Linked DNA regions of Homo sapiens. The protein of the gene in region 1 interacts with the protein of each later gene in a pairwise test. Each region holds a gene or a part of one and is shown on either strand. Other genes may lie near its edges. The genes, in order: LNX1, TMEM239, CEP72 and TRIM68.

Region 1 (3,721 bases):
ATTTTTGGCAACATGAAAATGCCAATTTCCTTTCAAACCAATTCCCGGACTACAGCTACAAATGTGGTCAACAACGTCATCCTGGAGTAAAATTCAGCTCCTGACACACACTTCTATGGCAATTATAACATAGTTAACACTTGGCCTGTACCTATATGAACACTGATCCATTGGGGGCCACTGAATAAAAATTTCTTCAATCTCATTTGCTATTTTAGTTGAGGATTCTAATTTACAGAAGAGCTGGGCCTTTCCTTCTCCCATTCCTTTTATAACTTCCTATCCAGTTTCCTGCAGTTTGTTTTTCCTCCTATTTGAATTGTTCTTATAATCTTTAAACGTTTCTGTTTCCATTCACTTTATGCGTGCATGCTTCTCTATGACTTATCAAACGTAGCACTGGGTGTAAAGTGGTATTTTTCCAAGGTCAAAAAAAGTATACGAATTCATTTATTAGGATTAGGCTTAAACTGCTTTCATTGAGATTATTCAAAGGATTTTTGCCCTCATTAAAATTATATCAAGTAAATAAAAATATGACATCCATAAGTGTGTTTGTTCACCAATAAGGATTTAGGTTTATCCAACTTTTTGCTAATACATATTCAAGCATTGTCTTAAGTTAAAAATATGATTATCATTCCCAGTAGATGTGTAACAGAACACAATAGGGCTGTCAGTTTTTTAAGGATATTCAAAATTATGGAAAACAGGTTCAATTACAAAAAGCCAGCTAACAGCACAAAGGTCACCAAGGTATGATACAATTTTGAGTGGGACCTATGCAGTGGTACTTAGCCATTAAAAATGCCAACAAAAGGAATGGAGGATGAGTCACAGTAAGTATTCCCTTAACTGTGAAACTTAAATATGCATGTACACTGATTACATTCTATTTCAGGTGCTTGTATAACTGTAAAGATATTGTATTACGAAGAAACACAGCTGGAAGTCTGGGCTTCTGCATTGTAGGAGGTTATGAAGAATACAATGGAAACAAACCTTTTTTCATCAAATCCATTGTTGAAGGAACACCAGCATACAATGATGGAAGAATTAGGTAATAATAATGACTAATCAAAAATACTTGTATTAAATGTTGTTTCATAAATGCCAAAGCTTGGCCCCATTTGAGATAAGGCATGTATTTATTATACTTTGTGGGGATTAAAAGTATGTACGTAGCATTCAACTTCTGAGAAATCCAAAATAATTACACATATTCTTGGTCCCATACTACAACTCCCCATACTTTTAGCATTCCTTCTAACACAAGCTGAATGGATAGTGAGTTTGGAGAATGTAAATAAGAGGCAAGAAATATCTCAATTAGAAGTTAACATAATTAAAATGGTCAGATGTAGCAAAATCTAGCACCACTAAGATAAACTTGCATTAACTTCAGCAACGAATTAAAATACTAATCATATCTTGTTTTGTTTTTTTTTTTAGATGTGGTGATATTCTTCTTGCTGTCAATGGTAGAAGTACATCAGGAATGATACATGCTTGCTTGGCAAGACTGCTGAAAGAACTTAAAGGAAGAATTACTCTAACTATTGTTTCTTGGCCTGGCACTTTTTTATAGAATCAATGATGGGTCAGAGGAAAACAGAAAAATCACAAATAGGCTAAGAAGTTGAAACACTATATTTATCTTGTCAGTTTTTATATTTAAAGAAAGAATACATTGTAAAAATGTCAGGAAAAGTATGATCATCTAATGAAAGCCAGTTACACCTCAGAAAATATGATTCCAAAAAAATTAAAACTACTAGTTTTTTTTCAGTGTGGAGGATTTCTCATTACTCTACAACATTGTTTATATTTTTTCTATTCAATAAAAAGCCCTAAAACAACTAAAATGATTTGTATACCCCACTGAATTCAAGCTGATTTAAATTTAAAATTTGGTATATGCTGAAGTCTGCCAAGGGTACATTATGGCCATTTTTAATTTACAGCTAAAATATTTTTTAAAATGCATTGCTGAGAAACGTTGCTTTCATCAAACAAGAATAAATATTTTTCAGAAGTTATAGTTGTCTTTTAGTATGTGATACTAATTAAGATTACTTTTGTATTATCACTATTTAAAAGATCCTAGTAATTTATTCTTTCAAATACCATGTTATTTGTTACCATCACCGATGAATACCTCCTAGGCTTATCCCTAAAAATGCTCGCTCAGAGAATTAATTATAAACTTGTTTTGTTTTTAGTAAGAAATGGCTAAAGCTCTTTTTTTCCACAATCGTTAGTAACTGTATAAAAACTCATGCTGCTCCACCAGTGGGCCTTGGAAAATGCATCAAGAAGGCCAAACCAGCTTGACCCTGGCTCACAGACATGGTCATGAGGCGATTTAAATTTGTGCCACAATGAAGAGTGTGTGTACACATGCCTCCTAGAAACTACACTATGGGTAATTAATTAATTTATTTCATAGAGGCCACCCAGATGCCTTATAGGTTTTATTAATTTGGATATGAAAGTGTACCCCATTTGGTTTCACCAGGAACCCAAATTTAGAATATTGAAAAGCCATCAAAAAGTTGTGATATCAAAAATGTATGAGTCTCTTAATATACTAAGCAAGAGTGTCACAGCAGTAATGATAAAGACTAGTTTTAATCTCAAGCCTTAGAGGGGCCCTTTGTTGCCTTTTGTGATGCAGCCTCTTAAGAGAGTGGTGTTTGATTAACAAAAAAACTGTGGCCCAAGTGGAACCCTTGACCTTTTCTCAGATAATCTGTGTATGTACACAGCTAACACAGCTCTTTAGATTCCCTGTTAAGTGACTCATTCACATTCCTTTCTTGGATATAAAGTCATTGCTGTCTTTTTATTTTTGAAATAGTACAAGACAAAGATTTTTAACTTAACATGAAAAATTCACTCTTTTATTTTGGAAAAAAAGTTAACTTTTCATACTAACAAACAGAACAAGATTTAAGGTAAATTTCTTAAACATTATCCAGAAAAATAACAAGATTTATAGTATCTACTTCTGGTACTAATATACACAAAAGGCCAAAACCATGCCTATTCTGCAGGTGTAGCTTCGGTGCTCTCCTGTTCAGGGGCAGGCTCACTGCCCGCTTCTTTTCCTTCTTTGCTTCTTTTAGATTTTTTGTGTTTGTGTCTCCTGTGACTATCTCCTTCTTCACTTTCATGGCGACGTCTACTATTACTGGAAAAAAAAAAAAAAAAAAAAGGTGTGTTCTGTTTAAATACACAATCAGTGACAAAAATCCAATCACTCTAAGGAAATTCTCAATATAACACTGGGTTTAAAATAATCTAATGCATTTTCTCATAAATATAATGTGAGGAATAATCAGTTTTATGTGACTTTTATGCAGGGATTGTATTTATTTTATAGGGCCATCTTCACTGATATTATCTCAGATTCCCAGTGCCTATACACAGCTTCTGAAATGCATATTATAATATACAGTAACAAATTAGAAACAGGCATTAACTCAAAACCGGAAATACTGTATAGGGTTGATTTTTGGCAAACAATAGGTATTTTGTTTAATGCTTTTTTAAAAAAATTTGAGACAAGGCCCTGAATTTTTCTTTAATGAAACCAAGCAAGACTGGTTCATAGGCCAAAATTTCCCCTCTTCCAATGCGACAATGTAGTAAGTCAAAATCTCTCACATACTATTGGTTCACTATTTTATTAAAGAGCAAACCTTCGAGAAGACTTATG
Region 2 (7,145 bases), on another chromosome or scaffold:
ATCACATTTAGGCTTGTAATGGAAGAGTCGGCTCTATGCCTTTCCCAAGCCAAGCACTTTTAGTTCTTTTTGTTATTTCTCCTGTCTTTATCTCTATGCTTAGATTTCTTGCTATTTCCTTTTTTTTCTTTTTTCTTTTCTTTTCTCCTTCTTCTTCTTTTTTTTAAAAGACAATTTCTTGCTCTGCTGTCCAGGCTGGAGTGCAGTGAGCTGAGGCTCACTGCAACCTCTGCCTCCCAGGCTCAAGTGATCCTCGTGCCTCAGCCACTCAAGTAGCTGGGATTACAGGTGCCTGCCACCATGCTCAGTTAATTTTTGTATTTTTAGTAGAGATGGGGTTTTACCATGTTGGCCAGGCTGGTCTTGAACTCCTGGCCTCAAGTGATCTGCCCACCTCAGCCTCCCAAAGTTCTGGGATTACAGGTGTGAGTCACTGTGCATTTCTTGATTTTTCTTTATGTAGTTGTTATCTGTGGATTTCTGCTATGAAATTAAGGCGTTAGTTTTTCTACCACCCTCCCCTCAATACACACATCCAGATACACAAACATACACTCCCTCCTTCCATTTTCAGTAAAGCTCAATTGCTATTTGGAATCAATATTCAGTGCTTTTGTTATGACTATGTAAATATTATGTTTAAATTTGTGCTACCTGGAGTTAGTAATTACTTTGTTTTTATCATTTGCTTAGTTTTCTAGGCATCACTCATTAATTCAATCGCAAAGCTTCCAGTGTAACTGAACATTTACTCAATATAGCCAAACATAGCTAATAATCAGTTGATTTCATTTTCCTCTGGAGACATCGCTCCTAGAGCACATCTTCTGATTTCAGGCTGGGTTGGTTACTTTCTTTACCCGGGGGTATAGTTGACATCCCAGGCCTTTCTCATCGTCCCTTTTCTGTGCTTAATCTCATTTATTGAATGCCATATTGCTCTCTTTCTTAGTTTAATTCTTTGTTTTGCTGAAGCACATCCTCCAGTAGCTTTCTAAGAAAGGGTATATGCAAGGTCAAATTTCTGAGACCTTGTATGATTGAAATGTCATTATTCTACCCTCCCAATTAATAATCATTCAGACCTATACATTTCTATATTAGACATCATTTTGAGGGCATTTATTGTCTTCTAGCTACCAGTATTGGTGTTTAGAAGTGTGATACCATTCTTGCTTCAGATCCGATGTATGTGATGTTTTTATTTGGTGGAAGCTCTTAGGATTGTCTTTTTATCCCTGCTAATGTGAATTTCATTATATGCCTTGATGTTAGCTGCCCTGTTTCATGTATTGGGCTGTGAATTGGTGGAAAGTTATGGTCTAGAGAATCATGTCCTTCAATTCTGAAGAGTCTCTTGATTTTTAAAAATCTTTCCCTTCTGGTCGGGCAGGGTGGCTCACACCTGTAATCCCAGCACTTTGGGAGGCTGAGGCGGTCACATCACCTGAGGTCAGGAGTTTGAGACCAGCCTGGCCGACATGGTGAAACCCTGTCTCTACTAAAAATACAAAAATTAGCTGGGTGTGGTGGTGGGTGCCTGTAATCTCAGTTACTTGGGAGGCTGAAGCAGGAGAATCACTTAAACCCGGGAGGCGGAGGTTGCAGTGAGCCAAGATGGCGCCATTGCACTCCAGCCTGGGCAACAAGAGCGAAACTCTGTCTCAAAAAAAAAAAAAAAAAAAAATAGAAAGAAAGGTTTTCCTCCTCAGAGCACTCCCTCAATAAACCATGTGTACAAGTATCCCCATCTCAGGCTCTACTTTTAGAAATTATGACCCATTGATATAGTCTGAATATTTGTCCAAATCTCAAGTTGAAATCTCAAATCCCAATGTTGGAGGTAGGGCCTGATGGGAGGTGTTTGGGTCATGGGGGTGGATATTTCATGGCTTGGTGCTGTCCTTGAAATAGTGAGTGAGTTCTCTCAAGATCTGGTTGTTTAAGTGTGTGGCAACTCCCCTAACCACCACTCTCTCCCTTGCTCTTCACCCTTTGCCTTCTGCCATGATTGGAAGTTTCCTGAGGTCTCCCCAAAAGCAGATGCTGGTACCCTACTTCCTGTACAGCCTGCAAAACTGCAAGCCAATTAAGCCTCTTTTCTTATAAATTACCCAGTCTCAGGTATTTCTTCATAGCAACGCAAGAATGGCCTAATACACCCACCATCTGGTGCAGTGCCTGGCACATAGGAAGCACTTAAATAAATGATTGTTGAATACAAAATAAACTCTGAGAAAATCACAGACAGAACTCTCCTATACATGCATACAGAGCACCTGGTGCATAGTAAATCTTTAAGGAGCTTTAGACTCTCCGATCCCCCCATGCCCTGCAATATGGAGTAGCCTCATCTTGGTGGACTCATCAGGACATGCTCCCCAGGTCTGTATGTCCAGGAATGCAATTGTGTGGATGCATCCAGGATTGATCAGGCTCAGGGAATTGCCAATCTTAAACCTTAATGTTCCTTTACAAGCACAATTGGAACTTAATGCCAAAAAAAAAAAAATTCTGGGATCTTCTGTTATACCCTATCCCATTACGGACAAATCTACTCGTAAAACCCAGCTGCTGGATAAGCAAGAACAGCCAGACCAAGGGCGATCAGTGCATGGTCATTAGGGCTGGTGACCCTCGTCTCTGGGCAAGGCCTGCTGGAGGTGGATATGCAGCCTGATTCTTGTTCTGTCTCCTCCTCTCCTAGGGGCTGTATGGCCACTGTCTCCCATTTTGCCACCCCTACCAGTTTTCCTTCAAAGTATGATATGTGGGCAAAGATTAAGTTCTCTTAATTATGACACATTTCCGCTCTTGCCTCTCAAGTCACTAAACTGAGATGTGCTGGACCCCTATGGCCACCACCCATTTACAGATGATCAGTGTAATCTGATATACTGATAATCCAAGTGACTAAGCCCTTCATTATATGTTCATTTTCCTTAACTCCATTCTCAGACTGTAACCTTAACCTCTAATAAGGGGGTTACTAGGTCATAGTCCTCTTAAGTTCATGTCCTCTACCTCATTACTGGAACCCCAGTATGCATAACACCCCCTATAAACTGTAGTGCTTAGAATACCTGAACAGCCCCCTCCTCTCTCACCCCCATTTAGCAGGTTATGCGGAAGCCCAGCCCCAGAAGCCTCAGGCAGTCCCCTGGCAGAGCCCATCTCTGCAATCTGGAACTTCAGGCCTGAAAAATCCCCTAGAAGGACCCACAGGGAAGACAGCTGGGGACAGAGATATTGAATGACTTCGCCCTGGACCTGCAGCTCTGCAAACTCACAGGAAGAAGAAAGCAGACCTCGCTCCCTTGGACAGATGCCCAAGTAGTAATGGGGTTAGAATGCCTTCCTGACAACTCAGATCCCCAAGGGAGGGCCCTAGGGCAGAGAATCAGCAAAGGCAAGAGGATGAGTCTTAGTTCTCAGAAATCCCTGACTTCCCAGCTAAGCCCCACCTAGGCCACCAGCTGCTTATGAGGTCAGAGCAGCAGCAGCAGCAGCCCCCTCCCTACCCCACGGCCCCACGTGGTAACAGGTCACAATGCCCCGGGTGCCCACTCCCAGAATGCTGACCAAAGTGGGAGGAGGTGAGGAGGGTTTGCTGGGTGGGTATGGGGGAGGGGGAGACTCTGCAGGAGCCTAATTCCCCACTCTGAGCTCACCCTTCTGTCTGCCCGGGCCCTACCCCTTCCCCTACTCTCACCCTTATAATCCTTTTCAGCACTAGGTCTTCCCGTCACCTCCACCTCTCTCCATGACCCGGCTCTGCTTACCCAGACCCGAAGCACGTGAGGATCCGATCCCAGTTCCTCCAAGGGGCCTGGGTGCTGGGGAGGGGTCAGGTAGTCCAGTGCGTCCACCTGTATCCACCTGGGGCCCTAGCTGGGCCCAGCTCCTGGACAGTGTCCTATGGCTGGGGGCACTAGGACTGACAATCCAGGCAGTCTTTTCCACCACTGGCCCAGCCCTGCTGCTGCTTCTGGTCAGCTTCCTCACCTTTGACCTGCTCCATAGGTAAGTGGGCAGCAGCCTGGCAGGTGGGCATTGTAGGCGGGCGGGCCAGTGGACAACTTCCCTAAGCCCAGTCACCACCCTCTCTCTCCACAGGCCCGCAGGTCACACTCTGCCACAGCGCAAACTTCTCACCAGGGGCCAGAGTCAGGGGGCCGGTGAAGGTCCTGGACAGCAGGAGGCTCTACTCCTGCAAATGGGTACAGTCTCAGGACAACTTAGCCTCCAGGACGCACTGCTGCTGCTGCTCATGGGGCTGGGCCCGCTCCTGAGAGCCTGTGGCATGCCCTTGACCCTGCTTGGCCTGGCTTTCTGCCTCCATCCTTGGGCCTGAGAGCCCCTCCCCACAACTCAGTGTCCTTCAAATATACAATGACCACCCTTCTTCATCAGGCCCCCTTTTCTCCTTCCTGGCTGGGCAGGTGGGATGATACCCCTTTCTTCCCAGCCTGAACCTCACAGTCCTATAATATAGGTATCAGATACCTGGATCTGAGTCTTTGGGCAGCAAGAGAAGGTAGGATACTAGCCAGGGAGCCCAAGGAAGAATGTGGCAGCCACCTCAGAGCCTGTGGATTGGGGGCAGCCACTCTGGCCTCCTCTGTGGCTCTAGAGAATGAAGGTCCAGACAGAAAGACTTGCGAGAGAGCAGTTTGGAAAGGGGTGGATATCAGCCAGCAGGGAAAGCAGGAAAGGGACAGGGATCCAGGGAGGGCTTCCCATGAGAAAGCATGAGAAACTACATCTGCGGGGCTCCGAGGCTCCCCTGCCAGCCTGGAGGGTCCGTGCAGAGGGACTTGGGTGGGCCTCACACCCTACAGTGACTCCTCTCTTGGCTGGACCCCACCCCAGCCCGGGTCACAAAGGGGCTCCTCTGGGGAGGGTGGGGGTAGATGAGAGTGGGGACTTGGATCTGCCTGCCAGGCCGTCCTGGGCGCTGCAGGAAGCAACATGACTTAGGTAACTGCCCAGAGGTAAGTCCCAGTCCCTAATTCTGTAGCCCCACCCCACGCACACTGGTGCCCTCCTGACCCCTGCACCCCCTCTCTGCCCCCCCCCCCCAAGGTCCCAGGCATCTTCAAGACCCTGGCCCTCTCCCCAGGTGCACCAGACATGATGCAGCAGCCGCGAGTGGAGACAGATACCATCGGGGCTGGCGAGGGGCCACAGCAGGCAGTGCCCTGGTCAGCCTGGGTCACGAGGCATGGCTGGGTGCGCTGGTGGGTGAGCCACATGCCCCCGAGCTGGATCCAGTGGTGGAGCACCTCGAACTGGCGGCAACCGCTGCAGCGCCTGCTGTGGGGTCTGGAGGGGATACTCTACCTGCTGCTGGCACTGATGTTGTGCCATGCACTCTTCACCACTGGCTCCCACCTGCTGAGCTCCTTGTGGCCTGTCGTGGCCGCGGTGTGGCGCCACCTGCTACCGGCTCTCCTGCTGCTGGTGCTCAGTGCTCTGCCTGCCCTCCTCTTCACGGCCTCCTTCCTGCTGCTCTTCTCCACACTGCTGAGCCTTGTGGGCCTCCTCACCTCCATGACTCACCCAGGCGACACTCAGGATTTGGATCAATAGAAGGGCAACCCCATCCCACTGCCTGTGTCTGTTGAGCCCTGGCCTAGGGCCTGAGACCCCACGGGGAGAGGGAGGGCAATGGGATCAGGGCTCCCTGCCTTGGCAGGGCCCAGACCCCTAGTCCCTAACAGGTAGACTGGCCTGACCCCGGACTCCTTCCTCAAGTCAATGCTGCAGGTTCCTGGTGTGAGGGGCTGGGGGCTTTGAGAAGAGGGGGCAAGACAGATGGCTTAGCCATTGGTGAAAATTGCTTAGCCAGGGGCAGAGCTTGACCAAGCCACTGATAGCGCCCATATGGATGTGATGATACCCGTGGGGCCCCCTTGGCAACTGACAGCATCTTTTTCTCATAGCCACTCAGCTGTCTCAGCTTCAGACTCACTGAGAACTTCTACCTGGGTACCACTGGCCTTGCCATTCCTCCCACCAATCCCCTCTTTCCACTTCCAGGAGAACCACAGACTCTAGAGAGGGTCCCAGTGACAAAAATCTATCAGGGAGAAGGCTGGCCAGAAGCCCCAGGAGACCTCAACTCACTCGCTCTCCAAACCTTGCAGCCCACGCATCCTCCTCCCTAGACTTCCTACTTCCTGCCTCAGTCTGCATCCCCAAGTCTGAGAAATGGGCCAACTGGGGTCAGACAGCACCTACTCACTCTCTAAGAATCCCAAGGTCTGTTATGGAAAAATGATCAAGAAATCCCATTTCACCCACTTACACAATGTGTGGCCTTGGCCAATTAATTCATTTGAGCCTCAATGTTACGTGGGCCACTTCTGTCATGGGGTTGTTGTGAGTCAAAGACAATATCTATTTGTGAAGCATTTTGTAGAAGCCAAAAACCTGTAAGATGTTGTTTTGAGCTCTAAGAACTTTCTGTAGGCGCATAAGATCTTTTGACCCCAAAGACTGTTGAAGGAACAGGAAGCTTCTCTGGGCTTTCAGATCAACTCTCTGTCCTGGATAGAATTTTGGCCCTAAAATGGTAAACAAGAGGTCGGTTAAGTGTGTACAAGATGTAAAAGGTCATGTGCCATGAAATCTCAAAATGTGCAGATGTTGAACTATTTTGATTATGAAATGCTTGGGCCTGGGGCTGGGTGCCAGATGCTTGCACAGCTGTGTGAGTGGGGACAGCACAGCCCCAGGGTTTCCAAAACTGACCCAGCAAGCCGCTCAGGCACCAGAAGGGCTTTGGAAAGGGCAATCCTTTGATGCCCTGAATGCTGGCCGTTCGTTCACTTGCTGGCCCCTCCAACAAAACATTGAGTGATCGGTAATTACCAAGTAAGGTACATGATAGACAACTTTATCCACACCTGACCCCCACCCAAGCCCTGGCCATCCCCAACTCCTGCCCAGTTCTGATCCCTGCTTTATGTATAACCCTAAAATCCTTGCTCTTGAAGCCCCAGACCCAAGGTCCCCCTCTTTTGTCCCATAAATACTCAGGGCCTTGGGGCTAGCCCCTAGAACCCTGGTTCATTTTTGCCTTAGACTTTTGCAACCCTCCATGCCACGGATTAGATGCCTTCAGCATCAGTGCCAAAACC
Region 3 (7,035 bases), on another chromosome or scaffold:
CATGGTTGGTAAATAAGTGCTTTTTCTCTGCACGTGTGTGTGTGCACACCCTCCCTCACCCTCTCACTAATGCACACACACTTTTAAGTGTATGGGCCCAGGTTATGGCAATAGCTACATTTTGAAAATCAAAGGCGAGAAAAGTTAACCAAGAGTGTCACGTGATACCATGTGATGGCCACCTATGTGGCATAAGTATCAGAAAACCTCCTGCCGTGAGCAGGCCAGACACGGTGGCTCACGCCTATAATCCCAATATTTTGGGAGGCCGAGGCAGGCGGATCATTTGAGGTCAGGAGTTTAAGACCAGCCTGGCCAACATGGTGAAACCAGGTCTCTACTAAATATACAAAAATATCTGGGCATGGTGGCGGGCACCTATAGTCCCAGCTACTCAGGAGGCTGAGGCATGAGAATCGCTTGAACCTGGGAGGTGGAGGTTGCAATGAGCCTAGATGGCATCACTACACTCCAGCCTGGGCAATAGAGCAAGACTCCAACTCAAAAAAAAAAAAAAAAAAGAAAAAGAGAAACCTTGTCTCGCGTGACCCTGGCGCCTCCTGGAAGCTTGCTCATGCCCAACTGGTGAGAGGCAGGGGACCTAGCCAGGTTGTCTGTCAGCCGCTGCAGGATGTGATGGGTCATCTTGAGTTGAGCAGGCTGTGGTGGAGGCCAAGGCTGTGCCCGTTTTGTGCCTTCTCCTGCCTTCATTGTCCTTCCACAGACAAGTTTGCCTTCCCCCGGGTCTTGTGTGTCCTGGGGGCTTAGTGGTCGGTACAGTGCACGGGACCCACCACTTTACGGACCATCAGAGTCTGTCACTTCACCTGTCTTCAGAGATGGGCGTGTGCTTAGACGTTGTTTGGAACGCGTTGTTGAAGCGTACTGCACGTCGGTCATCACGGGGTGAACACGCGAAGCTGGGCGGTCCGTGTCTGCTTCATCCAGACTCCCCCAGAGTTTGCGTGTTAGCACGTGTGCCCCAGTATGCCCCTTTCTTCCCTCGGCACCCTCCCTCTGCATGTGCCTTTGTGCAGGTGTATGGATGTATGTATGCACGTGGATAGGTGTGCGTGTACATATGTAAGTGTGCGTGTGTGTCCATGTGTGTATATACATGGGCACACACATGCCTTTTAAAAGTTACAGTGCTGAACACTGCACCCAGAGAATTTGGCCTGACGTGCGCCCCATCCTCTCTATATCTCAGACTCCATGGATACCGAGGACTCGGCCTCTTCTCAGAAGTTGGATTTGTCAGGAGAAATGGTGCCTGGTCCCCTGCCAGCCCCCGGAAAGTGCAGGAAGCGAAGAATGCCTGTTGGAAGATTCCAGACGTTTTCGGACCAGGAGGGTTTGGGCTGCCCGGAGAGAACTCATGGGTCCTCCGTGCCCAAGGAGAGCCTGAGCAGACAGGACAGCTCAGAAAGCAGGAACGGGAGGACCTTGTCTCAGCCTGAGGCCTCGGAGACTGAGGAGCAGAGGTCTCGGGGTGTGACCGACACCAGAGAGGTGAGAGAAGGGCTGGGGAGCAGCAGGCCCACGGCACTGCCTCCCTAATGTGGGGCTGTTACGGCTTTGGCGGGGCCGTGATTACGCCTGCGGCACTGACTGTGTCCCTCCCTGATGCAGGGCTGTTACGGCGGTGCCGTGATTACGCCTACGGCACTGACCGTGTCCCTCCCTGATGCGGGGCTGTTACGGCTTTGGCGGTGCCGTGATTACGCCTACGGCACTGACCGTGTCCCAGGATAAAGGGAATCATCACACTTAGGGTTCCAGGGTGCTTGCTGCTGCGTTTTGTTGGACGTGTGCCTCTGTGCCACACGCTGTCCTGCGCTGCTGTTCTGAGTGGAAGCCCCGTGGTGGAGAGAGGGGACTCTGCCTTACGGTGCACAGGGCATTTGTCTCCAAAGCTGGAATCGGGCATCTTGGCCGGCTGAGCCATTGATGACCCTTTCGTGAGGGGAGGATCCTGGAGGTCGCTGTGATGAGAGACCGAGTCACTCCACCCTCAGGGTGACCTAGAGGTCAGGGGGACAACTGGCGCAGGCCCAGTCAGAGGCGTTGAGACACACCTGCTGTAGACATGAGTGCAGACCACCCAGAAGGGAACAGGCAGGGGCTGTTCACTTGGTACTTGCCACAACGAGGGCTTCAGACTCCCATGCAGGCAGAGGAGCTTGAAGGTGCGGAACTGTGGGACAGGAAGGGAGGCATGGCCGGAGCTAGAGGCAGCTCCGTAGCAGCATGGGGTGGGGGGGGGTCCCAGAGCTGGGTGGGGCGTGTTTGACGTCCCCGGCAGGTCCTGAGCTGGAAGGAGGCAGAGATGGGGGAGGTGGGCGGTCTGTTTCAGGGTTATTGTTTGACTCCGGGCCATTGCTGGGGACAGCGCCTGGCACCCTCTACCAGCCTGACTGTGGGTGCAGGCTGCTTCCTGGGCAGCTCCTTTTGAACACAGGCTCTGACTGCGGCCTGGATGTGTCTTCCGCTTCCCTGTCTGGGTTGAGGGGAGGAGTCTGGGGCCTGCTTGAGTTGGGAATGTGTGGGCCCCGTCCTGTCCTGTCATCGAGACCTCACTCATCCAGGACCGGTGCACCTGGCTAAGCCTCACTGGGCAGGCACTGCTGAGCCGCCCTCCACCTGGCTCAGGGCTGGGGCCTCAGGGCACCTGTCCTCCCCTTCGTGGTGCGAGGGCATCCCAGGGTGCGCTTGGGCACCTGCTGGCATTCAGGACCTCAGTTACTGACTCGCTGGCCTCATGCTGTTGTTTCCATCACAGCCGTCTCCCGGGTCACACTCGGCTCTACCCGGGAAGAAGACGGCCCTGCAGGCGGCGCTCCTGGAGACGCTCTTGGACCTGGTGGACAGGAGCTGGGGCGGCTGCAGGTCCCTGCACAGCAACGAGGCATTCCTTGGTGAGTCAGGGCGGCCACTGCTCTTGCCCTGTAGGCAGCGTCTGTGTGGGTTCCGGGGTCCTCTGCGTGTGGTGACCTAGGAGTCATCTCAGCCCCAGGTCTCCTATGTCCCCTCCCACGAGCGTGTGGTGGTCCCGCGCCTGGGCCCTCCCTGGCAGTCTTTGCATCTCACAGTGTCCAGGGCTCTCGGGAGACACCACATGGGCCTGGGCCTGTGGGTCCCCCGCTGTGCTCTGGGGTGTTGGGGGGCCTGTCACCTCATTTTGCTCAAAATGCTGTCCAAAGGGGCTTGGTTCTGATGGCTGTGATCACATGGGGATTTGGAGTTTGGAAGCTGCTCAGCATCTTCTCCCCCGACCCAGACGTGTAGCCTGTGCTGGGCCTGGATTGCAGAGCTTTTGGTTGGTGTGGGACCCAGGAGGGTGGTCCCTCCCCAGAGAGGACTTGGGTCTGTTGGATTCTACCAGGCAACCCGTACATGAGCACACTGGGGCCTCCCTCATCCAGGATCACACTGGGAGACCAGGAGATGCCGCGTCCCCAGGGGCACCTTCTCTTTGTCCTGCATCCTGGGGTGTGGCTGTGTGTGTCCCTCAGGAGCCTAGCCAGTGTGCTTCTCCCCGCAGACCCTGGGCACGGCTCTGAGCTGTCTGACTGCGCCTTGCAGTGTTATAGCCCCTCAGCTCCTAGAATGAGGACGCCCTGCAGTCGCAGCCCACCTGGACCCCAGCCCCATAAACCTCCCCTCTCCCTAGGCTGGTGTCCTGTGGGAGCCTCCTGAGCTTGCCATCGTCGGTGGCGGGGGGACTGTCCCAGGCCCAGGCCACTGTCCCAGTGTGGAGTTGCCAGCTGTCGTCTGCATGGTGGTTTCCACACAGGGCAGTCGGTGCTTGTGGAAGGCGCAGCGAGTTGTGGCGGCGCCACTGAAACCTTGAGACGTGGCGGCCCCTGGTTGCCCCTTTTCTTGGAGGTCACCTCTTCTCTTTCTTCAGTTCCCACCCTGCCCGTGTGTGGACGCACAGAGCCTGAGGTGGTTTTGTGGCGCCAACACCCCTTTCCCCTCTCCCTACCTGTCGTCTTTTTGAGGCATCGTCTGTGTGATTCAAAACATACTGAGCCGATTTTGTTTACATTTCATCCTTTAAGCCTAAGTGCTAATGTAATATTTGGTTTTCACTCCTAGCTCAGGCAAGACACATCTTGTCATCTGTTGAAGAATTCACAGCAGCTCAGGACAGCTCTGCGATGGTGGGTGAAGATGTCGGCTCCCTGGCTCTGGAGAGTAAGTCCCTGCAAAGCCGCCTTGCTGAGCAGCAGCAGCAGCACGCCCGGGAGATGAGCGAGGTGACGGCGGAGCTGCACCACACACACAAGGAGCTGGTGAGCCCGCCCTGGCGCTGTGTCTGTGTCCATGTGACTGGGGGAAACATGGCTCTGACTTCCAGGAACGAGGGCAGCTCCTTGATGCCACACTGTCCCAACTGCCATCTCTGCAGCCCCATGTCTCCACTCCCTGCCCGGGACCCGGCCACCCCCGGAACGCGGCCTGCCCTGTCTCACAACAGGCCTGGAGCACTTTGGAGACAGCAGTGGCGCTGGCCACCTTCTCTCCCCGGGCCCAAGGGACCCTCCACCACTGGGCAGTGCCGGGTGCTGCAGGAGCCAGGCCTGGACGTGACTTTGTCTTGCTGACCCATCTCTCAGGGCCTCGAACTGGGGAAAACCGAGGCCACTCTCCTTTTATGAAGGAGATGACGGCCAGTGTCCCATGGTGAGCTGGGGCTACAGGGCAAGTTACCCCAAAACCAGCAGCTGAAAACCTGCATTTATCACCTTGGATTTCTGTGTATTGGGCCTCAGGCTCAGCTCAGCCAGGCTCCCTCCTTCCGTCTCAGCCGTGGGCCGGGGCCGCCGTCTCATCTGAGGCCTCATGGGGGCTCTGTCTCAGCCGTGGGCTGGGGCCACCGTCTCATCTGAGGCCTCACGGGACAGGATCCTCCCAGGCTCCCTCCACGCTGCAAGGGCCTCCCCACGGGCTGCTGGCATCCTTAGCACAGGGAGCTGGTGGTCAGAGAGCCACACCCAGGCAGAAGCCGCCCTCCGGGAGTCCTGGTGTGAGGGCAGAGCCACGTGAGGATGTGCACATCCAGAGGGGCCTTGTCAGCATCTTTAAATTGCGAGTGAAGTCGGCCCGGGACGGCTTCGAAAACTGCCTCTGAACTTGTCTGACAAGTACATACTGTCCGTTTCATGGGAACCAACATCTCAGAGATCCCACACAACGCTTCCTCTTTAGAGAAGAAAAACACAGCAAAACAACACAGGCAGCCTCTGTTTAAACGCACGTGGCCCCCCCACCCCGCCTGGAAGCCTCTGCACGTGGCCTTCATCTGGAAGCCTCTGTATTTAAACACATGTGGGCCTCCTCCATCTGGAAGCCTCTGTATTTAAACACACGTGGGTCCCCATCCCCCGTCCAGAAGTCTCTGCATTTAAACACACATGGCCCCCCATCCCCCATCCAGAAGCCTGTGCATTTAAGCACACGTGGTCCCCCGTCTAGAAGCCTGTGCATTTAAGCACACGTGGTCCCCGGTCCAGAAGCCTCTGCATTTAAGCACACGTGGTCCCCCGTCCAGAAGCCTGTGCATTTAAACACACGTGGTCCCCCGTCCAGAAGCCTGTGCATTTAAACACACGTGGTCCCCCGTCCAGAAGCCTCTGCATTTGAACACACGTGGTCCCCCGTCTAGAAGCCTGTGCATTTAAGCACACGTGGTCCCCCGTCTAGAAGCCTGTGCATTTAAACACACGTGGTCCCCCGTCTAGAAGCCTCTGCATTTAAGCACACGTGGTCCCCCGTCCAGAAGCCTGTGCATTTAAACACACGTGGTCCCCCGTCCAGAAGCCTCTGCATTTGAACACACGTGGTCCCCCGTCTAGAAGCCTCTGCATTTAAACACACGTGGTCCCCCATCTAGAAGCCTCTGCATTTAAGCACACGTGGTCCCCCGTCCAGAAGCCTCTGCTTTTAAACCAACGTGGCCCCTCCTCTGGAAGCCTCTGTATTTAAACACACATGGCCCCTCATCTGGTGGAAGCCTCTGGATTTAAGCACACATGGCCCCTTCTCTGGAAGCCTCTATATTTAAACACGTGTGGCCCCCCGTCTGGAAGCCTTTATACTGAAACACACGTGACCGGCTGTCTGGAAAGTGAGCTGGGCGCCGTCACTGATGATGTCTTTTCTGTGGGACACAGTCAGGCACACCCCTTGCCCTTCTGAGCCTGGGACGAGACAGAGCTGACAGGCGGAGCCCAAAGGTGTGCCGAGCACCAGTGCTGCCAGGGGTGAGAGTCACATGCAGCTGTGGCTGCCGTGGACGCCTGCTTTTTTGCCCTCTGCAGTTTGCCTAACCCCTGCAGTTTGCAGGCAGCCCTGGGCCTCTGGACAGAGCAGCCCTGGTTCCCTGTCAGGGTGAGTGATCCAGAAGAATCTGGCAGCCCGAGCCCCGCGGGTAAGGAGCAGTCAGCACCGTCAGGAACCCCGCGGAGGGAGCAGCCGTGCAGGCTGGTGGGCACTGCTTTCCAGGGAGGCCCACATCTGTCACTCCAGAAGCACCCAAGTTTACTCTGCCACGTGAGGACGCTCATCCCTCGGTCACATGAACCTAGACCTTGCTTCCTTTGGAAGCTGCAGTCGGGTGTCCTGAGGCAAGGTGGCCCCACTTCCAGCTGCTGTGCCTGGCACGGCCTCTGAGGCAGATGGGCTGCGCCCAGCTTGGGTGCAGTCGGTCCTCTGTTCCCTGCACCTGTCGTGGCCTAGACTCCAAAAAATAAAAAATTAGGTGTGGTGGCACACTCCTGTCATCCCAGCTATTTTGGGAGGTAGAGGCAGGAGGCTCAGGAGTTGGGGGCTGCAGTGAGCTGTGATTGCTCCACTGCCCTCTAGTTTGTGCGACAGAGGGAGACTTTGCCTCAAAGAAACAAATGAAAAAGAGCTGGGAGCTCACAGCCCTGCCTTAAGAGCTCACCGCATCCTTGGGAGGCAAAACCATGAGACGTGGCACTGCCAGGAGCTTTCTGGACGACCCAAAGCCCCGCGCGGAGGGCAGGT
Region 4 (7,035 bases), on another chromosome or scaffold:
CCGTCTGCTAAGGCTACATCCAGGAATGGGGCTGAAGGGTGACCTGTGTGAGCGCCATGGGGAAAAGCTGAAGATGTTCTGCAAAGAGGATGTCTTGATAATGTGTGAGGCCTGCAGCCAGTCCCCAGAGCATGAGGCCCACAGTGTTGTGCCAATGGAGGATGTTGCCTGGGAGTACAAGGTGAGAGATGGAAGCTGGCCACTCCAGTCTAACCCCGGCCCCAAGTTGGCTGTTTCTAGATCAAGGGCTTGACCACCAGCACCACAGACTGAGAGCTAACTCCTTTGGTTCCTGACACCCAGAGATCCCTGGAATCTGATACAGAGAGCTATACCTTTCCTTGTATTCATGACCTTCCTTGATTTCCTGCTCTCCCACTTCCTCTACACCTACATCCTAACAGGGCTCAATTCCTAACCCAAGGCTGATTTCAGTAATGAGAATGTGAAGGAAAACAGTTTGGGTTTTAACTGAGATTCTGGATGCCTTGGATGAGTTTAGGCATGAGGCTCTTATATAGATGGTCAAGGCTACACCTGACCTGCAAACTCCTCCTAGCAGTGCTGCAAGTAGTCATTTGGCATTGAATGGATCACTTCCCTCCTTCATTTTATAGACAAAAGTGAGGCTTAGAAAGTTGAAAACATGGCAATTTATTTTAGAGGTGGAAAGAACTATGGGTGAGTCACAAGATTGAGAGAGGTCATCTGATATAGTCTTCTCAGGTCCTTTCTGACTTCAGGTCCAGTTAGTGAAAGGAAGATCAGAGGCTGTGACTCAAGTCTTCTTGCACTTTCTCCTCTCCCAAGTTTGTTTGTTTGACAAGTCATCTCTGACAAACCTGGGACTCCTTTTTTGTAGCTAACCTCATCAACTTCCAGCTTCTGGGCTTCTCTTTACTCTTTCATCAGATGCCCATAATGACATCTTTATCGGAACCATTATCTCAGTGATTCTGTGATCCAGTGATCCAGCATTGGTCTCAACTCTCTTTTTTGGAGTTGAAATAGGAAGGTGAGAGTGTAAGACAAATCCCCTGAATTAGCTTTTTTCCTATATGGGAGGGATTTCTAAAATATGAAAAGTATTTACTAACTCATTCTGTTTTTGAGACTATTAGAAAAGGGAGCTAGTATAACATAGGGGTAAAGGGCTGGATGAAATCCCAGCCCAACCATTTATTACCTGAATGACTTTGGGTAGGTCACCCTCTAAGCCTCAGTTTTCTTGTCTATAAAATAAGGTTAATACCAGCCTCAGAGGATTGTAAGTATCACATGCATATTTAGAGCTGAAAATATACCTGACACTTGATATATTTTAACAAAATAGTTGCTATTTTGTTAAAATAGCAGAATTAAATGGTGTTTCTGCACAGTTTATGCTTTTCAGTAGAAATCCCTTGCATTACTATTCTAGGAAAGTGCTTCTTACCCTTAATAAGCATATGAACCACCTGGGAGATCCATCTAAAATTGAGATTCTCATTTGGTAGGTCTAAAGTAAGGCCAAGATTCTGCATTTCTAACAAGCTCCTAGGTGATGTGGATGCTGCTGATCCACTTGAACCACATTTGGAGTAACAAGGTTCTGGCAGACAGTAAGATAAAAATAAATAAGATAAGGATAAAAATTGGCATGGAAAGGAAAGTCCAAGGTACTTTTGTGGAGAGGTTGTAAATGGACCTTTTCTTCCAGTTTACAGACATTTAGAGACTGTGGGAGTTGAAATGATTCTCAGCCCAGAGAGCTACCTCGGATGTCATCTGGGCAGAGTCTGCTTCCTCTGTGGCATTCCCTTTCCCCACAGCCTTCACTGTGGCCGGTTGCCTGAAGGACTCTGGTTCTCCCATAGCCTCCCAGTGCTAGGAAGCCTAGGCTGCCGGAGGTGGCCTCATGAGGGTTTTGTCTCTTGCAGTGGGAACTTCATGAGGCCCTCGAACATCTGAAGAAAGAGCAAGAAGAGGCCTGGAAGCTTGAAGTTGGTGAAAGGAAACGAACTGCCACCTGGAAGGCAGGTTGCCTCGTGGGGAAAGGAGTTTGTGTCAGTCGTCCTGTGTGGTCCTGGAGCTGGCCTAGGGTAGCATTCTCATCACTGTGAGGCAGAATGTGAGGCTTGAAATCACAGAGCCTAGGGTTCTAATCCCTGCTTTCTCTGTCCCAGGCCTTAGGTAGGCCACGTCACCTCTTAATTCCAGTTTCTCCATGGGGATGTAGGGATAACCTCTGGTCTTGTATCCTCCTATATGAGAAAGGAAAAGCACATGCTCACGTGTGTCAGCTCACAGTGGCATGGCTTATATCATGCTTGTAAAGCAGAGTTTCTCTTTCATTTTCCCAAGTTAGAGAATATTTGCTAAGAGTCTGGTTATTAAAATATTGTAAAATCACCTCTGAAATAAATTTGAGGCCAGTAAGTATCAAACTACTAGAACTTTTGATCAACAGAAAGTAACACTGAACCAATCTAAAACAGCATGTTGAACAGATATAATATCAACATGAAAATGAACCACCTAACAGTGTAGTTAAGTTACACTGCCTTAGAGACTTAAATGTAACACATCTTGTCATTATTCTGAAAATGGAAAATAGTCTAGAGCATGTAGTATTAAGATAATATCCTGGACCCTACTGGAGTCAATAAGAGTGACAATAGAGACCTAGAAGCATGTGGTGGAGCTGGGAGAACAGGAAGCTAGGAAAAATAGTATCCTTTATCTTTGCCCCTGCATAGCCTGTCACGTGGTTGGTACCATTGCAGAGTATGTGTGTATGCATATGTCAGTATGCTCGATACTGGGTGACTGAAAGTATCAGTGCTGATTTCCATCTTGGCTCCACAGATACAGGTGGAAACCCGAAAACAGAGTATTGTATGGGAGTTTGAAAAATACCAGCGATTACTAGAGAAAAAGCAGCCACCACATCGGCAGCTGGGGGCAGAGGTAGCAGCAGCTCTGGCCAGCCTACAGCGGGAGGCAGCGGAGACCATGCAGAAACTGGAGTTGAACCATAGCGAGCTCATCCAGCAGAGCCAGGTCCTGTGGAGGATGATTGCAGAGTTGAAAGAGAGGTCGCAGAGGCCTGTCCGCTGGATGTTGCAGGTGAGTAGTAGGTTTTCCTGGTAACCCTGAGTGACAGCTGAAGATAGACTGAGACTCCAGGAGAGAGCATCAGTTACCCTTCAGTAGGGACTGCCAGCCCTCTGCCAGCTGGTCATGGATCCTGTGTTTCCCCAGCTAATACCTGCTGTTTCCCTATCCCTGGCTGGTGGATGACCTGGTCTGTTGTAGCATCATAGGTGGGGCAGTGCTCAGGCAGCTCTGGCGTCATTCCAGGCCCTCTCCTCTAGCCCGAGAGTCTTGAGATGGAGCCTGAAATTGGCCAGTTCAGCCAAAGCTCAGCCTGCTCTTCCATCCTTCCATAGGCTTCTCCTTACCTCTGCATGGCATCTCTCCATTCTTGGTATCTGTCTCCCTTCCCCTAGAGAAACTCCCTGCCAGTTCGATGTCTGTTCCCTCTGAGGAATAGCACTTACTCAGATGCTGCATTTTTTTTTCTCCTTCCAGGATATTCAGGAAGTGTTAAACAGGTATGTTCTCACCCTTGGAGCCTCTAAGCAGCCCTGTAGGGGATAGTGAGGCCTAACTAGAGCCAGAAGTAGGGACGGAGCACAGACTCGGTGCACACAGAAAAGCAGGTGCTGGTCCACAGTCTCGTCCCACTTACATGGTAATGGCTAAGGAATCTTTGTTGATCTTTCCTTTTTCTTCTTTGTACTTGATCAAATGTATATCAAGTGAAGCTGTAAAATATGTGGTTTCAAGTAGATTGCTCAAAGAGGATAAAAGACTGCCCATGACTCCTTCATGTCCGACAGAAAATGTGTGCACTTCTTCCTCTCCCAGAATCAAATATACATCCAACCCTTCCCATAGCATGGGCATGCAGGTGTTCTCACCTCTGCACACAAACAGCTTGAGGCTCAGCCAAATAACCGTAACCATCATGTCTCTGCTTTGCTGGGGTTCACTATGTCCCTGGCCAAGCCCCTCTTCCCTGTACTAAGATAAGGCCCATGTGACAAAGCCGGGACTCCTGGCCCTGAGGTTCACCCTCCTCTACCAGGAGCAAATCTTGGAGCTTGCAGCAGCCAGAACCAATCTCCCTGGAGTTGAAGACAGATTGCCGTGTGCTGGGGCTAAGAGAGATCCTGAAGACTTATGCAGGTAATGGATCCTGGGGGAGACTGTAGTGGACAGTGGGAGGGACCCCTCCCAGAGATAGAAAATGGTTCAGTGCCCTCTGGGTGCTCCATCCAGCCTCACCCCTTCATCATTGAGAAATCTGTGGCTGAATTTATCAGAGGGCTCTCACCCATGTCCCCTGGCCCTATATCACTGTTACCAACCAGGACCTTTTCTTCTAGCTGATGTGCGCTTGGATCCAGATACTGCTTACTCCCGTCTCATCGTGTCTGAGGACAGAAAACGTGTGCACTATGGAGACACCAACCAGAAACTGCCAGACAATCCTGAGAGATTTTACCGCTATAATATCGTCCTGGGAAGCCAGTGCATCTCCTCAGGCCGGCACTACTGGGAGGTGGAGGTGGGAGACAGGTCTGAGTGGGGCCTGGGAGTATGTAAGCAAAATGTAGACCGGAAGGAGGTGGTCTACTTATCCCCCCACTATGGATTCTGGGTGATAAGGCTGAGGAAGGGAAATGAGTACCGAGCAGGCACCGATGAGTACCCAATCCTGTCCTTGCCGGTCCCTCCTCGCCGGGTGGGAATCTTCGTGGATTATGAGGCCCATGACATTTCTTTCTACAATGTGACTGACTGTGGCTCCCACATCTTCACTTTCCCCCGCTATCCCTTCCCTGGGCGCCTCCTGCCCTATTTTAGTCCTTGCTACAGCATTGGAACCAACAACACTGCTCCTCTGGCCATCTGCTCCCTGGATGGGGAGGACTAAGAAAGCTACCACCCTAACCAGAGAGGCTTGGAATTGGGCCTGGCCCCCATGGGGCTTGGAGGACCGAGCCACTGACAGGTATCCCCTGAAACTGAGCTGAGCCCAGTATCCAAGGATTCCTCTGTCTGATCCTTTGGTCTTTGCTACCAGGCTGAAGTCTGTCATGAAACCACTTATTTTAAAAAGCAGAGGCCCAGTCAAATGAGCATTGCATCCCATGAGGGAAGCACGACAGGGCTGATGGTGAGGATCAGAGCAGTTCTAAGGTGACTCGTTGGGGTAAGGATCAGGACTTTGTCCATGTAGTAGCCAACCACCCTCTTCCCTGATTCCCGTCCGGTGTCACAGTTCAGTCAGTGAGGATGATGAAGTAGATACAGTCTTCAGGACACCATTAGATGGGCTTTCCCAATAGGCCAAAAAAATGCTGCGCATACCCAGAGCTGGTTGTTGTGCTGAGGCCAGTCAGAGGATGCTTCCCCTGAGGTTTGCTATAACTAAGCAACCTTTATGTGACTCTCACCTTCTGACCTCCTGGCAAGAGAAATTCAGTGCAGCAGGGGGACACAGACCTGCCCAAGCCACCCCACTGCCGTTCCCTCTCTGAGCACAAGCTGGGCAAATCACTGTCCCTTGGACTCCAGGAGACCAGTGTCCTAGTCTTGCCTTTTTTCTCTAAGTGGCAGGATCAGAAAACCTGCGAGCTTTAGTTTGTATTTTCACTTTATGAATGAGGAAACTGAAATGGCCTTAAGGGAGCAAGTTATTTCTTTTTTTTTGACACGGAGTCTCACTCTGTTGCCCAGGCTGGAGTGCAGTGGCACGATCTCGGCTCACTGCAGGCTCTGCCTCCTGGGTTCACGCCATTCTCCTGCCTCAGCTTCCCGAGTAGCTGGGACTACAGGCGCCCACCACGACGCCTGGCTCATTTTTTTGTATTTTTAGTAGAGACGGAGTTTCACCATGTTAGCTAGGATGGTCTCGATCTCCTGACCTCATGATCCGCCCTCCTCAGCCTCCCACAGTGCTGGGATTAGAGGCATGAGCCACTGCGCCCGGCCCCTGGAGCAAGTTATTTCTTACAAAGCTGCTGAAGGTAAGATTATCAAAATTATAAAGCATTTTTCACACTCAAGTGAAACAAGGTTGACAAACTCACTTCGCAGGTCACATGCCTATACATCACTTATTATATTTGGGTCTGAAACTTCTCACATGTTTGGGAGGTTTTATGTGTCCTCATTGGGAAAATGGGTGTAATTCAGCATAAAACCTCATATGATTGTCCTGCCTCATGGAGCTGTTGTATAGATCCCAGATCCATCCCATGATTTGTTCCTGTCTGAGGCATAGAGGCAGGCAAGCCGTGGATTTTGCACATGGTGACTTTCCCACTGTGCCATGATACAGTCTGCATCTTATAGCAGTGCCTTTGTCTCAGGGCCTCTGCTGGCAGTCTAGACCTTTTGGGCAGAAAGGAGCTTCAAATGGCTGTGATAAGGAATATTAAAAATTGTGTTTCTACTTTAATTGTATTGGCTGTTCATGTATGTAGGAGTTAAAATAGGCCAAACTGGAGAAATAAACGCATTCTGTCCACCATGCTTCCAGACTGCTTCTTGAGAATCAGTAGTAGAAGGGGAGAAGTTTCCATCAGCTGCCTGGAGGGGAATGAGCTAGTGAGGCACAGACCCTGGTGCTGGCCAAGGGTTGAGCCTGCCTCAATTAGAGGAGCATCTTTGTCAGGGGATTCCCTGGGGGTAACTGAGAAGTAGGTCCCTAGGAAGGACTTCAGTTCTGTCTGTGGACAATTGGGACAAAAGGGTTAAGGGAAAATCAATGTTGTTCTTTGGCTATTAAGACAAATCTTGGAAGGTTCCTAGAAACGGAGGATTGTTAGCTGATAAATTCATTCGAACTTAGAATGAAGGAAGGAATGAAATGGCCTCATTTGTAATGTACTCTTTTTGGTTGGTTTGATTGTTTTTTACATTTATAAGCCTGTTTGGGTACTCTGATTACTTGTTAGAAGACTCGTAAGGTTAAACAAT

The links.
Region 2: the proteins of LNX1 (region 1) and TMEM239 interact in binary tests that used the Homo sapiens proteins (3 or more experiments, as listed by UniProt).
Region 3: the proteins of LNX1 (region 1) and CEP72 interact in binary tests that used the Homo sapiens proteins (3 or more experiments, as listed by UniProt).
Region 4: the proteins of LNX1 (region 1) and TRIM68 interact in binary tests that used the Homo sapiens proteins (3 or more experiments, as listed by UniProt).

What each region holds. Positions count from the first base shown.
Region 1 is NC_000004.12:53,458,774-53,462,494, reverse strand, and holds the end of LNX1 (E3 ubiquitin-protein ligase LNX), read left to right. Parts: intron 1-901; coding exon 902-1,060; coding exon of another isoform or gene 1,061-1,064; exon of another isoform or gene 1,065-1,452; coding exon 1,453-1,588; 3' UTR 1,589-2,966; coding exon of another isoform or gene 2,967-3,193; 3' UTR 3,194-3,194; downstream 3,195-3,721. Other genes in the region: FIP1L1 (pre-mRNA 3'-end-processing factor FIP1), read right to left, coding at 3,046-3,193, 3,705-3,721.
Region 2 is NC_000020.11:2,811,422-2,818,566, forward strand, and holds TMEM239 (transmembrane protein 239), read left to right. Parts: upstream 1-4,994; intron 4,995-5,085; coding exon of another isoform or gene 5,086-5,133; coding exon 5,134-5,592; 3' UTR 5,593-6,641; downstream 6,642-7,145. Other genes in the region: uncharacterized protein C20orf141, read left to right, coding at 3,764-4,023, 4,117-4,354.
Region 3 is NC_000005.10:636,307-643,341, forward strand, and holds part of CEP72 (centrosomal protein of 72 kDa), read left to right. Parts: intron 1-1,210; coding exon 1,211-1,512; intron 1,513-2,782; coding exon 2,783-2,918; intron 2,919-4,101; coding exon 4,102-4,298; intron 4,299-7,035. UniProt on the Homo sapiens protein: Involved in the recruitment of key centrosomal proteins to the centrosome.
Region 4 is NC_000011.10:4,598,225-4,605,259, reverse strand, and holds the end of TRIM68 (E3 ubiquitin-protein ligase TRIM68), read left to right. Parts: coding exon 1-181; intron 182-1,919; coding exon 1,920-2,015; intron 2,016-2,847; coding exon 2,848-3,108; intron 3,109-3,573; coding exon 3,574-3,596; intron 3,597-4,132; coding exon 4,133-4,233; intron 4,234-4,433; coding exon 4,434-4,984; 3' UTR 4,985-6,588; downstream 6,589-7,035. UniProt on the Homo sapiens protein: Functions as a ubiquitin E3 ligase. Acts as a coactivator of androgen receptor (AR) depending on its ubiquitin ligase activity.